Regions from separate parts of the Homo sapiens genome. Here region 2 is linked to region 1. Evidence: fine-mapped expression QTL. Tissue or cell type: whole blood. Region 1 holds a variant in brackets; the other region holds the start of a gene. All regions are shown on one strand. Distances are between the middles of the regions.

Evidence for each region. PIP is the estimated chance that this variant, and not a neighbour inherited with it, causes the effect.
Region 2: SSR1 starts here. The variant in region 1 is fine-mapped to the expression of SSR1 in whole blood (TOPMed, PIP 0.99).

Annotation. Positions count from the first base shown.
Region 1 is chr6:7,266,631-7,274,824 of GRCh38, reverse strand. No RefSeq gene overlaps it. Among named protein-coding and RNA genes, the nearest start is that of SSR1, 42 kb to the left of the region's middle. RefSeq lists enhancers at 892-1,393, 6,988-7,489 and a silencer at 7,115-7,409. The variant G/A (reference allele first, on the strand shown) is at 4,465.
Region 2 is chr6:7,310,124-7,318,299 of GRCh38, reverse strand. It overlaps SSR1 (signal sequence receptor subunit 1), which reads left to right and starts at 5,101. Exons shown (of 8, transcript NM_003144.5): 1 at 5,101-5,258. The coding sequence starts at 5,180. RefSeq lists enhancers at 4,726-4,785, 4,796-4,865, 4,202-5,068, 5,069-5,937 and silencers at 5,356-5,465, 5,596-5,645.

The DNA.
Region 1 (8,194 bases):
CCTTGATGTGTTTGAAGAGAGCTATCACTTCTTTCTTTGTGAACAATCATGTTATCCAGGCCAAGGTCAAATGTCCTGCAGCCTACATGGGTGTTTTAAAGACTATATTCCGGGCCGGGCGCAGTGGCTCTTAATCCCAGCACTTCGGGAGGCCGAGGCGGGCAGATCATGAGGTCAGGAGTTTGAGACCAGCCTGGCCAACATGGTGAAACCCCGTCTGTACTAAAAATACAAAAATTAGCTGGGCATGGTGGCACGTGCCTGTAATCTCAGCTACTCAGGAGCCTGAAGAAGGAGAATTGCTTGAACCTGGGAGGCGGAGGTTGCAGTGAGCCAAGATTGAGCCACTGCACTCCAGCCTGGGCGACAGAGCGAGACTCTGTCTTAAAAAAAAATATATATATATATTATATATATATAATATATATTATATATATATTATATATATATATATAATATATATTATATATATATATATTATATATAATATATATATAATATATATATTTCCATAGAGCAATTTTGTTTTCAAGGAAACACTGCCTTTATTAAGATAATTGTCTGGCTCCTTGAAACCTTACAGATTCTATTGAATTATGTAAATTAAAGGGTCCAAGTGATGACCTGAGATAAAAGATGGAAATGATGGCCATTAGCTCTCTCCCTCCAAAACACGTTACTTCAGCAATTCCTTCCTGCTCTGTGGCACTTGCAAAGTGCCCCGAGACTGGGGGTAAAGGGTGGGGCTTCCTTGAAGTGCAAGGTTCAGGATGCCATCCCCAGGGAGGCTCTGACACTGGGCTGGGGCCCAGGAGTCTGTATTTTAACAAGTGCTGCTGGTTTTCCCACAAGCGTGCTGCACACCGTTACCCAGGGCAAGCTGTGGCTGACAGCCACGACGTCCCTAAGCAGCCATGTGGCAGGCTGGCACCAGCACGCCGAGGGCGGGGGGAGCCTGTGTCTGATGAGGCTCCTGCTGCCCAGCCGTGTTCCGTGACCCCTTCCTGATACTTCTCACCCTTTGTTTCATAGCTGCAAGGTCACCTGAAATGGGTGGGGGCTGCTGCCCCTTACTGAGCACTTAGCTCTGACCTGGGACCCTCAAAGCATTTGACTTGTGTTCACTCATCCCGTTCTCTATCTGAGAGCATTTGACTTGTGTTCACTCATCCCGTTCTCTGAGAGCATTTGACTTGTGTTCACTCATACCGTTCTCTATCTGAGAGCATCTGACTTGTGTTCACTCATACCGTTCTCTATCTGAGAGCATCTGACTTGTGTTCACTCATCCCGTTCTCTATCTGAGAGCATCTGACTTGTGTTCACTCATACCATTCTCTACCTGAGAGCATCTGACTTGTGTTCACTCATACCGTTCTCTGAGAGCATCTGACTTGTGTTCACTCATACCGTTCTCTGAGAGCATCTGACTTGTGTTCACTCATACCGTTCTCTATCTGAGAGCATCTGACTTGTGTTCACTCATACCGTTCTCTATCTGAGAGCATCTGACTTGTGTTCACTCATACCGTTCTCTATCTGAGAGCATCTGACTTGTGTTCACTCATACCGTTCTCTATCTGAGAGCATCTGACTTGTGTTCACTCATACCATTCTCTACCTGAGAGCATCTGACTTGTGTTCACTCATACCGTTCTCTGAGAGCATCTGACTTGTGTTCACTCATACCGTTCTCTACCTGAGAGCATCTGACTTGTGTTCACTCATACCGTTCTCTACCTGAGAGCATCTGACTTGTGTTCACTCATACCGTTCTCTACCTGAGAGCATCTGACTTGTGTTCACTCATACCGTTCTCTACCTGAGAGCATCTGACTTGTGTTCACTCATCCCGTTCTCTACCTGAGAGCATCTGACTTGTGTTCACTCATACCGTTCTCTATCTGAGAGCATCTGACTTGTGTTCACTCATCCCGTTCTCTATCTGAGAGCATCTGACTTGTGTTCACTCATCCCGTTCTCTATCTGAGAGCATCTGACTTGTGTTCACTCATACCGTTCTCTGAGAGCATCTGACTTGTGTTCACTCATACCGTTCTCTATCTGAGAGCATCTGACTTGTGTTCACTCATACCGTTCTCTATCTGAGAGCATCTGACTTGTCTTCACTCATACCGTTCTCTGAGAGCATCTGACTTGTCTTCACTCATACCGTTCTCTATCTGAGAGCATCTGACTTGTCTTCACTCATCCCGTTCTCTATCTGAGAGCATCTGACTTGTGTTCACTCATCCCGTTCTCTGAGAGCATTTGACTTGTGTTCACTCATACCGTTCTCTATCTGAGAGCATTTGACTTGTGTTCACTCATCCCGTTCTCTATCTGAGAGCATTTGACTTGTGTTCACTCATCCCGTTCTCTGAGAGCATCTGACTTGTGTTCACTCATACCGTTCTCTATCTGAGAGCATCTGACTTGTGTTCACTCATACCATTCTCTATCTGAGAGCATCTGACTTGTGTTCACTCATACCGTTCTCTATCTGAGAGCATCTGACTTGTGTTCACTCATCCCGTTCTCTACCTGAGAGCATCTGACTTGTGTTCACTCATACCGTTCTCTACCTGAGAGCATCTGACTTGTGTTCACTCATCCCGTTCTCTATCTGAGAGCATCTGACTTGTGTTCACTCATACCGTTCTCTGAGAGCATCTGACTTGTGTTCACTCATCCCGTTCTCTATCTGAGAGCATCTGACTTGTGTTCACTCATACCGTTCTCTGAGAGCATCTGACTTGTGTTCACTCATACCGTTCTCTATCTGAGAGCATCTGACTTGTGTTCACTCATACCGTTCTCTATCTGAGAGCATCTGACTTGTGTTCACTCATCCCGTTCTCTATCTGAGAGCATCTGACTTGTCTTCACTCATACCGTTCTCTATCTGAGACAGGTTATGATATCACCATTTTAGAGCTGAGCAAATTGAGGTATAGAACGGTAAGGCTGCCCAGCTAGTGAGAAAGGTAGCCAGGATCTGGAGGTGGGTAGGCTGGCCCCAGGAGTGCCCCCACTCTCTCCAGCGAACGGTAGACCCAGCCAAACACCCGTATCCCAGAGGCACCTGGAACTCCATATGGGGATTGATCATTTTCCTTCCCTAAACCACTTTTCTTTTTTTTTCTGGAGACAGAGTTTTGCTCTTGTTGCCCAGGCTGGAGTGCAGTGGTGCGATCTTGGCTCACCAAAACCTCCACCTCCCGGGTTCAAGCGATTCTCCCGCCTCAGCCTCCCGAGTAGCTGGGATTACAGGCATGCACCACTATGCCTGGCTAATTTTTTATGTTTTCAGTAAAGACAGGGTTTCTCCATGTTGGTCAGGCTGGTCTCGAATTCCCGACCTCAGGTGATCCACCCGCCACAGACTCCCAAAGTGTTGGGATTACAGGCGTGAGACACCGCGCCCAGCCCCAAACCACTTTTTCCTGCAGTTTTTCCTGTCTCGGTTGGTGCCATCGCTTCCAGAAGAAACTCCCTTTGTGCAGACCCCCTCCATCCTCCTGCCTCTTAACAGTCTTTTATATCCAGCTCTTCGGCGGCCCTGCCCTGCTCTGGGCCTTAGGAATGTGTGGCAACTCTTGGTTCCCGTGTGCTGCCCCGTGTGGGCGTGGTGCCCGCCTTTGGCTGCAGTGCTGTGAGAGCCCTGCCCCACTCTCCCAGCTGCCAGTCTGGTCCCCTTCCAGCCCACCACCTGAGCTGCTTCTGTGGTCATTGTCAAATAGCATTCTGACCCTGTTGCTCTCTCCTGCTGGAAACCTTCTAAAGGTTCCCCACAACCATCAGGACAAAGTTCTCCACCATTAGCCTCTGCCTGCCCTTTGGCCCTTCTGTCTCACTGGTCCTGCTGTGAATTTGTACTCCAGCCCAGCAGCTCATTCCCTGTGCACACCACACTGGTGCCACCTCCTGCCTGCACAGGCTGCCCTCTCTCCCAGACTCTCTGCCACCTTCAAACTTACACAAAAGTTACAAAATAGTATAAAGAAATTCCCTGTGCCCTTCACCTTCACCCAGATCGTGGTTAGCATTTCACCATATACAAATGCACACACCCACCATATGTATATTTTTCTGAGCTCTCTGGGAGTGAATTGCAGATATGCTATTTCCCCTTCCCCCAAATCCACCAGTGTTTACCTCCTAAGAACAAACATTCTTTTTTTTTTTTTTTTTCAGAGACAGTTTTGCTCTTGTTGTCCAGGCTGGAGTGCAGTGGCGTGATCTCGGCTCACCGCAACCTCCGCCTCCCAGGTTCAAGCAATTCTCCTGCCTCAGCCTCCCGTAGCTGGGATTACAGGCATGCGCCATCACACCCGGCTAATTTTGTACTTTTAGTAGACATGGGATTTCTCCATGTTGGTCAGGCTGGTCTCAAACTCCCGACCTCAGGTGATCCACCCGCCTCGGCCTCCCAAAATGCTGGGATTACAGGCGTGAGCCACC[G/A]TACCCGGCCCAAACATTCTCTTACATAACTAAACTACAGTTATAAAAGTCAGGAAATTTAACATTTTTGTAATGGTTTCTAAACTACAGGCTGTGCTCAGATTTCACTAATTGTCTCAGCAATCCTCTTGATGGCTATTTTTTTTCCTGGTTTGGGATCACGCAGTATGTTTAGTTGTCATGTCTTGGTTTCCTTTGTTCTGGAACAGCCTCTCTTTCAGCGTCCCTGGCATTTTTAAAGAGCGCAGGCTAGTTGTTTTGCAGAGAGTACCCCAGGGAGAGTTTGTGTGATCCTTCCTCTGGATTAGATTCAGATTCTGCCTTTTTGGCAAGAACAGCCCTGCAGCAATGCTCTGGCCTTCCCAGCTCAGCATCTCAAGGACCACATGGTGCTGCTGGGTTGGCCCCGTTACTGGTGATGTGGATACTGATGACTTGGGAATGGTGGGGTCTTATTTATTTTTTACAACCTCCGTATTCATGACCCCTCTTCTAAGAAAGCTTGCATAGACCCCTCCAGGCACCCACAGTTAGGGTAGGTGTCTGTTCCCTCACCTGAGTCCTGGGTACAGTGCCTCACCTGCACTGACCAAGCCATCTTGGTGTGTGTCTCTTCCCCCGCTTGACTGCAAGGCTCAGGGGACCTCATCTTGCTCATGATGGTGCCCCAGCTCCTATGGGCCTGGCACATAGTAGGCACTTAATATATTAAGATTTCTTGAGTGAATGAAAGAATGAGTGAGATTTCGGAGCTGATTGAGTTACAAAGCAGAAACCTCCAAATCTCTCCAGATAGGTCTTTGTGTGCAGTTTTCACTGCTTTACTCGTGAAGCATGGCTAAATGTTGGGGTTTCTTTTTATGCCAGATTCTCACTGAAAGCATGAAACTCTGATCAAATCCCAAGAAAAAAGCATGATATTTATCCTTCCTTTGGGGAATCACAGAATGGACCAGTTTTAGAAACTTGGAACCCCATCCTAGATTTTTCCATGTGTTTCTTCATGGGAGGGTGGATGGGTGTGAGGGGAGAGTCTCTGGGTCTTTGATTGTGGGAACTATTTGGCCTGGACAGAGCAGCAGAGAGTCTTGGGCCCCCCGCCCTGCTGCCTCTGTCCAGCCACACACTTCATGCACCAGTAGGGAAGTGCCTGGCGGGGCGTCTGGAAGCCTCTCAGGAGGTCACTGTCTCCCTTTGCTCTTTCAGACGCAGGAGGAGGGAGACGCACTGATGACATCGGGCCGCTCCTGCAGCTCGGGCGCCTCGCAGTCTCCAGGTGCAAGGCCAGCGCTTCCGCCGTGGCTGCTTCAGGACATCCCCCAGCACAGCCGTTCCTGGAGACCCGGCCATCTTTTCTGCATCGTTTTGCAATTTGTGAAACTTAGGACAGCAGCCGCCTGTTCAACCGGGCCCTCCGCCGGATGGCTCTGGGAAGTCACCGCTGGGCATGGCTGTGTCACTAGGGCTTTGTGGCTGATGAATAACAGCTGTCGTGTGCTGTTTCTGGGTGGAGATGTCCCAGGAAACCAGTCCTACTCTGCCAGCCAGTAGGATGGGGATGCAGGTCCCGCCAGCAAGGACTGGCTGAACCGTGCGACCCATGCAGTAGGGCCCTTGGGTCAGCTGTCCCCACCCACTACACTGATGGTGAATGAGGCCAGAAGACAGGGGGCTCTGCGTGAAGCCCACCAGCCCCTGCCACGTGATGGTTGGAACGCGTACCTTAGAGCTTCCAGTTCCGTCTTAGGACATTTTCAAAGATGAGCGTCCTCAGGAGGGGCGGTGGAGGGGGCATGTCTGGAGGGACCTGAGGCACGGGGAGCGCTCGGTGCCCAGGCCGAGCAGTGCCACACGTGCGCACGAGTTATGCCTGCAAACACGGGTTACGCCTGTGAGACCAGTGGGCTCCTTCCAGCCGGGCTGCCTGAGGCCACTGTCTGTGTGTTGGTGCCCATTGTGGGCTCCGGGGCGCTCTTCCCTTGTGCTGACGTGAGTGGAGTTGAATTGCCCTGAATCAGATTAGACTGAAATAAACTGAATTGAAAGGCCTACAAATAAGTATGAATCTCTTGCTGAGTGCCAGGCTCTGGGGAGTCACAGCTGAGTAAGACAGCCGCTGCCTGTCTTCACACTAGCCGGGCCCATAACTAATATTATGGACTTGCAGCAAGAACATATTGGGGGTGGTGGGTGGGAGTGGGGAGGGGGGCGAGAGGCTTCAGGAGGAGGAGATCTTTGAGCTGAGCCTTTGAGAATGGGAGTGGGGATTTTGGAAAAAGGTGAAGGTAAGAAGGACACAGGGGACCTGGGAGGCAACAGGAGCAGAGGTGCGCTGCATCTGAGGCGAACACAGGAGAGGGCGGAGACGCAGTGCTCACTTGCCACCTGACAGAGGCACACACGTGCACACAGAGTCACAGGCAGAGAGAGGCATCGCACACTCAGCCTGTGAGCCACACGCATCAGAACCACCCAGAACACACACACATACCTACTCCAGCAGAATCTCAGGGAGCCGACCCAGGAAGCTGCATTTTAAAACAAGCTCTACATGGGAATTCAGAGATTGACAGTGTGTGTGTTGGGGGCGGGTGGTAAGCCTCTGTCAGCCAGCGGGGGTGCGGGGGCATTCAGTGATTTGCAGGCTGGGCCTGCCAGGATTTGCCCCTGGCACATGAGTAATTGTTGCACTTCACCACACAGCACAGTTGCCTGCAGGACTTGTCCACACACAGACTGCTGGGCTCCACCCCCGAAATTCTGAGTCAGTCGGCCTGGAATTGGGCCCAGAATTGCTTGCTGATCAGTTCCCTGATGGGTGATGCTGGTACAGGGGCCTCTGAGAAAAAGATGGATTGGAGAGAGATGAGGCATCAGCCAGACTGAAGGAAGCCCTCACTGGCTCTCCTGAGACTGAGGTGCCGGGACAGTCGCAATATTTGCAGCACTTTGATTTGACCAGATGTGCCTTTCTCTTCTGTGTGCCCATCCTTGGTTTCAAGCCCGGCCTGTGACAGTAGTATGGTATTCTGGACATATGACAGACACCCAGTGCCCCGATCTGAAGATGGGTGAGCCTGGGTCACGCCGCCCAGTGGTCCCCGCCAGGGTCCCTTGCTCAGGGTGATGCCATCTCCTAAGCGGTGCAGCAGAGACCTGTGGCTCTGAGGCCACTTAGGAGCATTTCTGGGCATCCATGCAGTGCCTTGATTCCAGCACCCAGAAATGCTTCCAGTGTTACCAAGGTCACAGGTGGAAACCCCAGATGTCCCTTGGAAGGCTGTGCTGCCATCACCCGTGGGGCTTGGTCACGTCCTGGATCTAGGGGTGATCATTTATCAGCAGGCTACACAGGATTGGAAGAAGGGCCCCTGGGAATGATAAGTCTGTTCCCAGTAGGAACCCAATGTACCACCAGCAAGGAGCTCAGCACTGTGCTCAAGCCCAAAGGCACAACCAGCTTCCAAATCCCATCTTTGCAGGTCTATGGCTGGGACTACTCATGGTACCAATGCTGTACCAAGCAAGAGAGGAAACCACATATTAATTTGAATGGGGGAAGTTTGACATAACTGTAACAGGTTTAGAGTAGTGAGGGGTTGGCTAGTAAGAAGTCAACTCCAATCATCTAGGAAGAGCAGCTATAAGAAACAGCCTCTCAGCTGAGATCCTGCCACTGCACTTCAGTCTCTGGGCGACAGAGCAAGACTCTGTCTCAAAAAAAAAAAAA
Region 2 (8,176 bases), 43 kb before region 1:
GAAATCTTAAGTAATCAAAGGGAAAGAATCCTCTGCTTTTACACATTCTAAGGGAATGAAATGACAGATGTGGAGAATCAACTACGGATTTGTCTGAGGTCTGTGAAGGAGAGTCACCAGGATATGGAATATTCCCTGAAAAGAAATCCCTTCAAAGAGATTGGTACAGACATGGGGAGAGATTTGGAAAGACTTAAATAAATTAGTAAATGGAATTCATAATTCCATAAATTAAGGATTGGAACCAAGTAGGGCAGAGAGCTCTGGGTGGGCACCAAGGAAAAGCTGCTTATTACGGGAAGAATGTGGATCACAGTGATGCAGAATTGGTGAGCACACTGGTCAGGGTGAGCCCCTTACTTCCTTGATCACAGCTGTCATTTTTTAATACTAATTGGACAGTCACACAGGTCTTCTGTTTTCTGTTTACATGTTATTTTCCCTAAATTCATCACATCAGTAATATCTCGAGTAGGCACACTTTATTTTTCCTGTTGTACCAATAGTAGCTGGTTGTGTAAAATTCAAGTCCCAAATAAAATCCGATAGTAATCGATTGATGACATCATCATTGGAGTGGAAGTCACAGGTTAAGCCTAAACTAAATTATCCTTACATGTTCAGGCTACGTCTAAACATCTGAGAACCGGTGAGACAGACCTACTAGGAATCTCTTTACCATAAAGAATGAGACGTCGTCCCCTTCAGTAATCAGTCCTCTGAATGGGGAAAGCAAGCCAGTAAGACACGGTGGTGCCGTGATGGAGAGCAGGTGTGATTTTGAGTACAGCATGAAGTCTGTAACTTCACCATCTATTACAGTTCCCATCAATTGTTTTTGGTGTTAGGAGAGAGTAGCAAGTTAAACAGAAAGATGTATTTGTCAAAACACCTGTCAGACATCAACAAGCTCAGAGCAGGTCTCATTTGAAACTCATGAAAGGGTGCCTCAAAGTAGGGGAGGGAGATTATGCTGAGTCAGTGGAGAACTCTGTAAGGTACAGTCACCTCAAAGCAGGGACAGCGTGCTGGCAGTCCTTGCTCGCTCTGGGGGCCTCCTCGGCCTTGGCGCCCACTCCAGCAGCGCTTGAGGAGCCCTTCAGCCCGCCGCTGCACTGTGGGAGCCCCTTTCTGGGCTGGCCAAGGCCAGAAGCGGCTCCCTCAGCTTGCGGGGAGGTGTGGAGGGAGAGGCGCGGGCGGGAACCAGGGCTGCGCGCGGCGCTTGTGGGCCAGCGCGAGTTCCGGGTGGGCGTGGGCTTGGCGGGCCCCGCACTCGGAGCGGCCAGCGGGTCCGGGCAGTGAAGGGCTTAGCACCTGGGCCAGCAGCTGCTGTGCTCTATGTCTCGCTAGGCCTTACCTGCTCCGCCGTGGGGCAAGGCTCGGGACCTGCAGCCTACCATGCCTGAGCCTCCCCGACGAGCGCCACCCCCAGCTCCACAGCGCCCAGTCCCATCGACCACCCAAGGGCTGAGGAGTGCTGGCGCACCGCGCGGGACTCGCAGGCAGCTCCACCTGCAGCCCCGGTGTGGGATCCACTGGGTGAAACCAGCTGGGCTCCTGAATCTAGTGGAGATTTAGAGAATCTTTCTGCCTAGCTGAGGGATTATAAACACACCAATCAGCACTCTGTATCTAACTCAAGGTTTATAAACACACCAATCAGCACACTGTATCTAGCTCAGGGTTTGTGAATGCACCAATTGGCACTCTAATCTGGTGGGGATTTGGAGAATGTCTAACTAAGGGATTGTGAATGTACCAATCAGCACTGTGTCTAGCCCAGGGTTTGTGAACACACCAATTGACACTCTGTGTATAGCTAACCCAGTGGGGACATGGAGAACTTTGTGTCTAGCTCACCAATTGAAAACACACCAATCAGCTCTAAAATAAACCAACCAGCAGAATGTGAAGCCAAATAAACGGAAAAAAAAGCAGGCTGCCTGAATCAGTGGCAACCTGCTCAGGTCCCACTCCAGTGTCCAGAATTGGGGGCTCATTAGCCTCCCTGACTTAAAGAATGAAGCTACAGACCCTCACAGTGAGTACTACAGTTCTTAAAGGCAGTGTATCCGGAGTTTCTTCCTTCTGGTGGGCTTGTAATCTCACTAGCCCAAGAGTAAACCCACAGACCTCCACAGTGAGCGTTACAGCTCTTAAGGTGGCATATCTTGAGTTATTCATTCTTCCTGGCGGGTTCGTGATTTCCCTAGCTTCAGGAGCGAAGCTGCAGACCTTCATAATGAGTGTTATAACTCATAAAGGCAATATGAGCTTAAAGAGCAAAAGAACAGATATTTTCCCAGCATGGAAAGAAACTGGAGCCTGTTGTCGCTGCTAAGCTCAGGGCAGCCTGCTTTTATTCTTATCTGGCCCCACCCACACCCTGCTGATTGGTAGAGCCGAGTGGCCTGTTTTGACTGGGCACTGATTGGTGCGTTTACAATCCCTGAGCTAGACACAAAGGTTCTCCACGTCCCCACTAGATTAGCTAGATACAGAGCGTGGACGCAAAGGTTCTCCAAGGTCCCACCAGAGTAGCTAGATACAAAGTGTCGATTGGTGCATTCACAAAGCCTGAGCTAGACACAGGGTGCTGATTGGTGTGTTTACAATCCCTGAGCTAGACATAAAGGTTCTCCACGTCTCCACCAGACTCAGAAGCCCAGCTGGCTTCACCCCGTGGAACCCGTACTGGGGCTGCAGGTGGAGCTGTCTGCCAGTCCCATGCCTGTGCACCTGTACTGATCAGCCCTTGGGTGGTGGAAGGAACTGGGCACCGTGCAGCAGGGGGTGGCGCTGGTCGGGGAGATTCCGGCTGCACAGAAGCCCATGGGGTTGGGGGAGGCTCAGACATGGTGGGCTGCAGGTCCCGAGCCCTGCCCCGCGGGAAGGCAGCTAAGGCCCGGTGAGAAATCGAGCACAGCAGCTGCTGGCCCAGGTTCTAAGCCCCTCACTGCCCCCCGCCTGGCCCAGTTGGCCGCTCCCACTGCAGGGCCCGCCAAGCCCACGCCCACCCGGAACTCGCACTGGCTGGCAAGCACCGCGCGTAACCCCAGTTCCCGCCCGCCCACGCCTCTCTCCACACCTTCCCGGCAAGCTGAGGGAGCTGGCTCCGGCCTTGGCCAGCCCAGAAAGGGGCTCCCACAGTGCAGCGGTGGGCTGAAGAGCTCCTCAAGTGCCACCAAAGTGGGGGCCCAGGCAGAGGAGGCGCCGAGAGCGAGCGAGGGCTGAGTACTGCCAGCATGCTGTCACCTCTCAGAAGCTTTGTTTTTTGCAATAAATCTTGCTGCTGCTCACTGCCTTTATGAGCTGTAACACTCACCGCGAAGGTCTGCAGCTTCACTCCTAAAGCCACCGAGACTATGAACCCACCAGGAGGAATGGACACCTTAACAGCTGTAACACTCACTGCGATGGTCTAGTAGCTTCACTCCTGAGCCAGTGAGACCATGAACCCACCAGAAGGAAGAAACTCGGAACACATCCGAACATGATGAAGGAACAAACTCTGGACTTTAAGAACTGTAACACTCAGCACGAGGGTCTGCGGTTTCAGTCTTAAAGTCAGTGAGACCAAGAACCCTATTCCAGACACAGCTCTGACATAGAGTGGCAACACTGGTAGCGTGCACAGGAGCAGAGGCAGCAGCAAAGTGAGAGGAGGCCCTCCACTTATGCTGGGCGCCCTAGTAGCAGCAGCAACACAGCAGCGGTGCCACTGGTGGCCTGGCAGAGTGGAATTTGGTTGATTCAGCCCAGCACCATCAGGCTGTGACTTTAGCAGACTGTAGGTAGTGGTGGCAGTGGGTCCAAGCTGCATTTACAGCCCCCAGGACAAGGAGACCTGAAGCGGAAACAATGCAGGAGTAGAACAGCAAATGTCCTAGGTCAGTAGTGTATGGAATCTGGAACCAGATAGCCTTGTTCAAATCTTGCATCTGCCGTTTGCTAGCGTTTTGAAGCTTTGAGTAAATTACTAACCTCTCTGGGTCTGTTTTCTCCTCAGTAAATAATATCCAGCTCATAGAGAGGTTTAGAAAATTAAATGAAAAAGCACAGCTCTAAGGAGGTGATTGACAATAGTAAGCATATGATTTATTTCCTCATCTTTATGACATCTCACTCTGGTCCAGACCAAGATTACTTAATATTCAGATTAATTTCATGAACTGCTATATTACTCCAGCAACTCAAATCCAAAATAGATGAAAAGGAAACTAAAGAAAACTGGACAGCCATTGCTGCACCTATTGTATAGTTACAAATGCTGACTACATACCAAAACACTGTTTAGGTGACTTATAATTCTGGAATGTCACATACGAATTTAAGAATTGCTGGCCAGGCGCAGTGGCTCACACCTGTAATCCCAGCACTTTGAGAGACCCAGGCGGGTGGATCACCTGAGGTCAGGAGTTTGAGATTAGTCTGGCCAACATGGTGAAACCCCCGTCTCCAGTAAAAATACAAAAATTAGCCGGGCGTAGTGGTGCGCGCCTGTAGTCCCAGCTGCTTAGGAGGCTGAGGCGGGAGAATCGCTTGAACCCGGGAGGCGGAGGTTGCGGTGAACAGAGATGGTGCCACTGAACTCTGGCCTGGGCGACAGAGCAAGACTTCGTCTCAAAAATAATAATTTAAGAATTGTCATTACTTAACCATGGGAGAGGGTGTGGGCAGACAGGGGACAAAGATTTTCCACTGTGTATTTTCATGGTTTTTCCTTTGAACAATGTCCTCTCTTCCAACAAAATTTTTTGCTTTTAAGTGCCACATAAAGGCAGCTCATGTTCCTTACATCGCCGTTATCAAGAGGATCGTCATTCAAATAAAGTAACCACTGACAATGCTAATTAATTGGAAGTAAAGAACTGGGCGGAAAGAACGGCTAACCGCAAGCTGCCGGGTCGCAACTGCGGCGGAAGGCGGACTCTCGCGGGAGCCACAAAGAGGCAGCAGCCGGCCACGTGACTTCCCGGTGGCCTGCTCTCCCCACCTCTCCGCGCTGAGCAGCCACGTCGGCGGCGGTCCCTGGTCCAGGGAGGGGCGTGGCAAAGGCCCGTGCGCGGTACGTGTCCCGCCCCTCGCTGCCCGGAGCCCGGATGAAGAGTAACGCCATTACCGCCGGAGCCGCCGAGAGCCTTAGCCGACGGAAACTGGACACTGGACCGGCAGCGCCATGAGACTCCTCCCCCGCTTGCTGCTGCTTCTCTTACTCGTGTTCCCTGCCACTGTCTTGTTCCGAGGCGGCCCCAGAGGTGAGGCTGGGGGAGTGTGCGGAGGGGATGGCCAGGAAGGAGATGCCAGTGATGGCAAGTTTGAAGTTGGAGGCGGTGGCCGCTCCGGGTCCTGGGGTCCGCGTCCACCCCGCTGGCCTCTCTCCGCCCTCTCCCCAAGCCTAGGCTCGTAGCAGCAGGGGTCCCCGCGGGCGCTGGAGACCCCGCTGCGGCCTGCCCCTTGCACGCGGAGCGCGGGGCCGTGCCCGGGCGACCTTGCTTCGTGGCCGGCCGAGGGCTGGGCTTGCTCCTCTTGCCCTGGACCCTCGCCTGCAGGAGCGGCCAGAACTGGAGGGTCCTCGGCTGCAGGAGGAGGCGCTGGACACGGCTGCGCTCCGAGCGCGCCGCAGCCGGGCTGTTTCTTTTGGCCACCTCCGGCTCCGCTCCACCCCCAGCCCCTCGCGCTCAGGGCTGACGTGTCTTTAGCTTCCACGCCGGGAGTCCGTCTTCATTCATTTGCCAAAACCCTTGTTTTCTACACATCTAAGCCATCAGAGTGTCTTGTTCAATGGTCATCTGCCTTGTTCACGCCCTGCTTGACCCGTATGTGTTACTAGGAGGCTTGATTTCAGAAAAACTACCCCATCGTCACCCCCGTTATCCGCCCCTGCTGCCAAGCAGACTGAAGAATCCCTGTGGGATGTCTCCCTTCTGCCTTCTTCCTCTTCTTGTCTTTCCATGGAACAATTTTTTGTTTGTGGAAACATCGTATTGTGCTGAAAAAATGTGGCCTACTTCGAGTGTTTTTAATACATAGATTTATTCTTTCAACAATTAACCCAGCAATTAAGTGTGAAAATAACTTAGCAGAATATAAAAATATGGCAACTTGACTTCCTGCACAGGTTTTGTCGTGAACTTCGACTTTCTAATTTGTAAAGTGAAATAATTAGTCTGACTAAGCATCCCTTTCATTCTGTAAGTTTAAGCAAGCTGTGTGTCTTAACGGTAGTGACAGGTATTCACGAGTTGTTTTGCGATGAAAAGTGAAGTGACTGGCTTCTGTTTAATGGCTAGAAAACCAAGTGGGAGAATTAAACAACTGTTAATGAGTTAATCTGCAGGTTTAACAAGATTTTTTACTTTAGGAGTCGTTTGCTGGTACTCTTTAAGCTTTTTAAAAGAAAACTTGACAAATGTAGTTTTAGTTTTAGAACTATTTATAACTATTTTCAAGTTATAAAAACTTTCAAGAAGCATGAATTCATTATCTAAACTGAATTAATATCTTGTAAACATTTTTTGTGAGAAACGGTTTTTGTGTTTGGTTTTTCCAGTTGAATGAAGACTGTTAGACTTCATGGGGACAAAATTGTTATTGGTTAACATTAAAATAATAAAATTGTTTAATATTTATGAAAGGCCTTTATATTCCAAAGTGCTCAAATTTAACCACGACTTTAAATTACTATATCAGACATGGTATTTTTCTTACTGGTTTTTGAAAAGGACTTGTAAGTTATGAATGCACTATTTTAGGCTTTGTTCAGCAGGCAGTGAAATCTCTTTAGTTCATAATGCATGGTTCAGTGTTCTTTAATATTTTGCAATAAATCTTAGCAGCCAGTGAGAACTTAAAGACATGGAAAAGACTGCAAATGCATGGTCCTTAACTGTTTCTCCTGGGTGAAAACACGCTTCCCTTCCCATGTTTTTTATCCACAGAATTGCCACATCATCATTTTTTCTGAGAGATGTTGGAAGACACTAGAACTTTGAAATTCTTTTTATGGTCTTGCCTGAAATAGATATAATGTGACTTACTTAGAGTACTATTGTCTATAAAACTGTGATTCACCTTTTTTTTGCATTATACCTGTACTTTGTAACACTAAGTTTGAGAAAAAATATCTTAAAACATGTTTGAAGCCACATGCAAAAATAATTGGATTCTTTCTTTGCTATCAAACCTGAAGCTACCAATACAGTTTTTACTAAACAATGTTTTTCATGCAAGCCAGTTTTTACCATGGATATGATTACAGATATTTGTTCCTTGGCTTACAAACTATCCAGTTCTAAGAGTTTCAGCTGTAGTCACCTCTGATAACAGTGTTTCCTACATAGAACATTAGAACTTAAGAATGCTTTATTTTTTTATTTTTATTTTTTTGAGACGGTGTCTTGCTGTGTCGCCCAGGCTGGAGTGCAGTGGTACAATCTTGGCTCACTGCAACTTCTGCCTCCTGGGTTCAAGCGATTCTCCTGCCTCAGCCTCTGGAGTAGCTGGAACCACAGGTGTGTGCCACCACACCCAGCTAATTTTTGCATTTTCAGTAGAGGCGGGGTTTCTCTGTATTGGCCAGGCTGGTCTTGAACTCCTGGCCTCAAGTAATTCACCCTCCTCAGCCTTCTAAAGTGCTGGGATTACAGGCGTGAGCCACCGCGCCGGCCAAGAATGCTGTTTTCTTTTAAACGTGGGGGTTGTTTAGTTTGCTTTGTATGGTTAATGACAGGGATTACATTTAGAAGTTTCTTATCTTTGCAAAAAATTATTTTCCTTAATTTGCTTAACAAAGTTGCTTGAAGTTCTTTGTGCTTCAAGGCATCTTTAGTTTGTGCCATTCATTTTTCCATCTGTTGGGCACTTTTTGAAGTTAAACCACATTTCCCATTAAAAATAACATGGAAGGCAGGGAACAGTGGTTCACGCCTCTAGTCCTAGCTACCCAGGAAGCTGAGGTGGAAGGATCACTTGGGCCCAGGAGTTTGAGGCTGCAGTGAGCTATGACTGCACAACTGTACTCCCAACCTAGGCATCAGAGCAAGACCCTGACTCTTAAAAAAAAAAAAAAAAAATTGATATGCAGTTGTTAAGACTACTAGTAAACTAAAATATAAATATTCTTCGGTGCATTGTAATTGGCATCATTCAGGTGAACTGGGAGATTCTGTTAGTC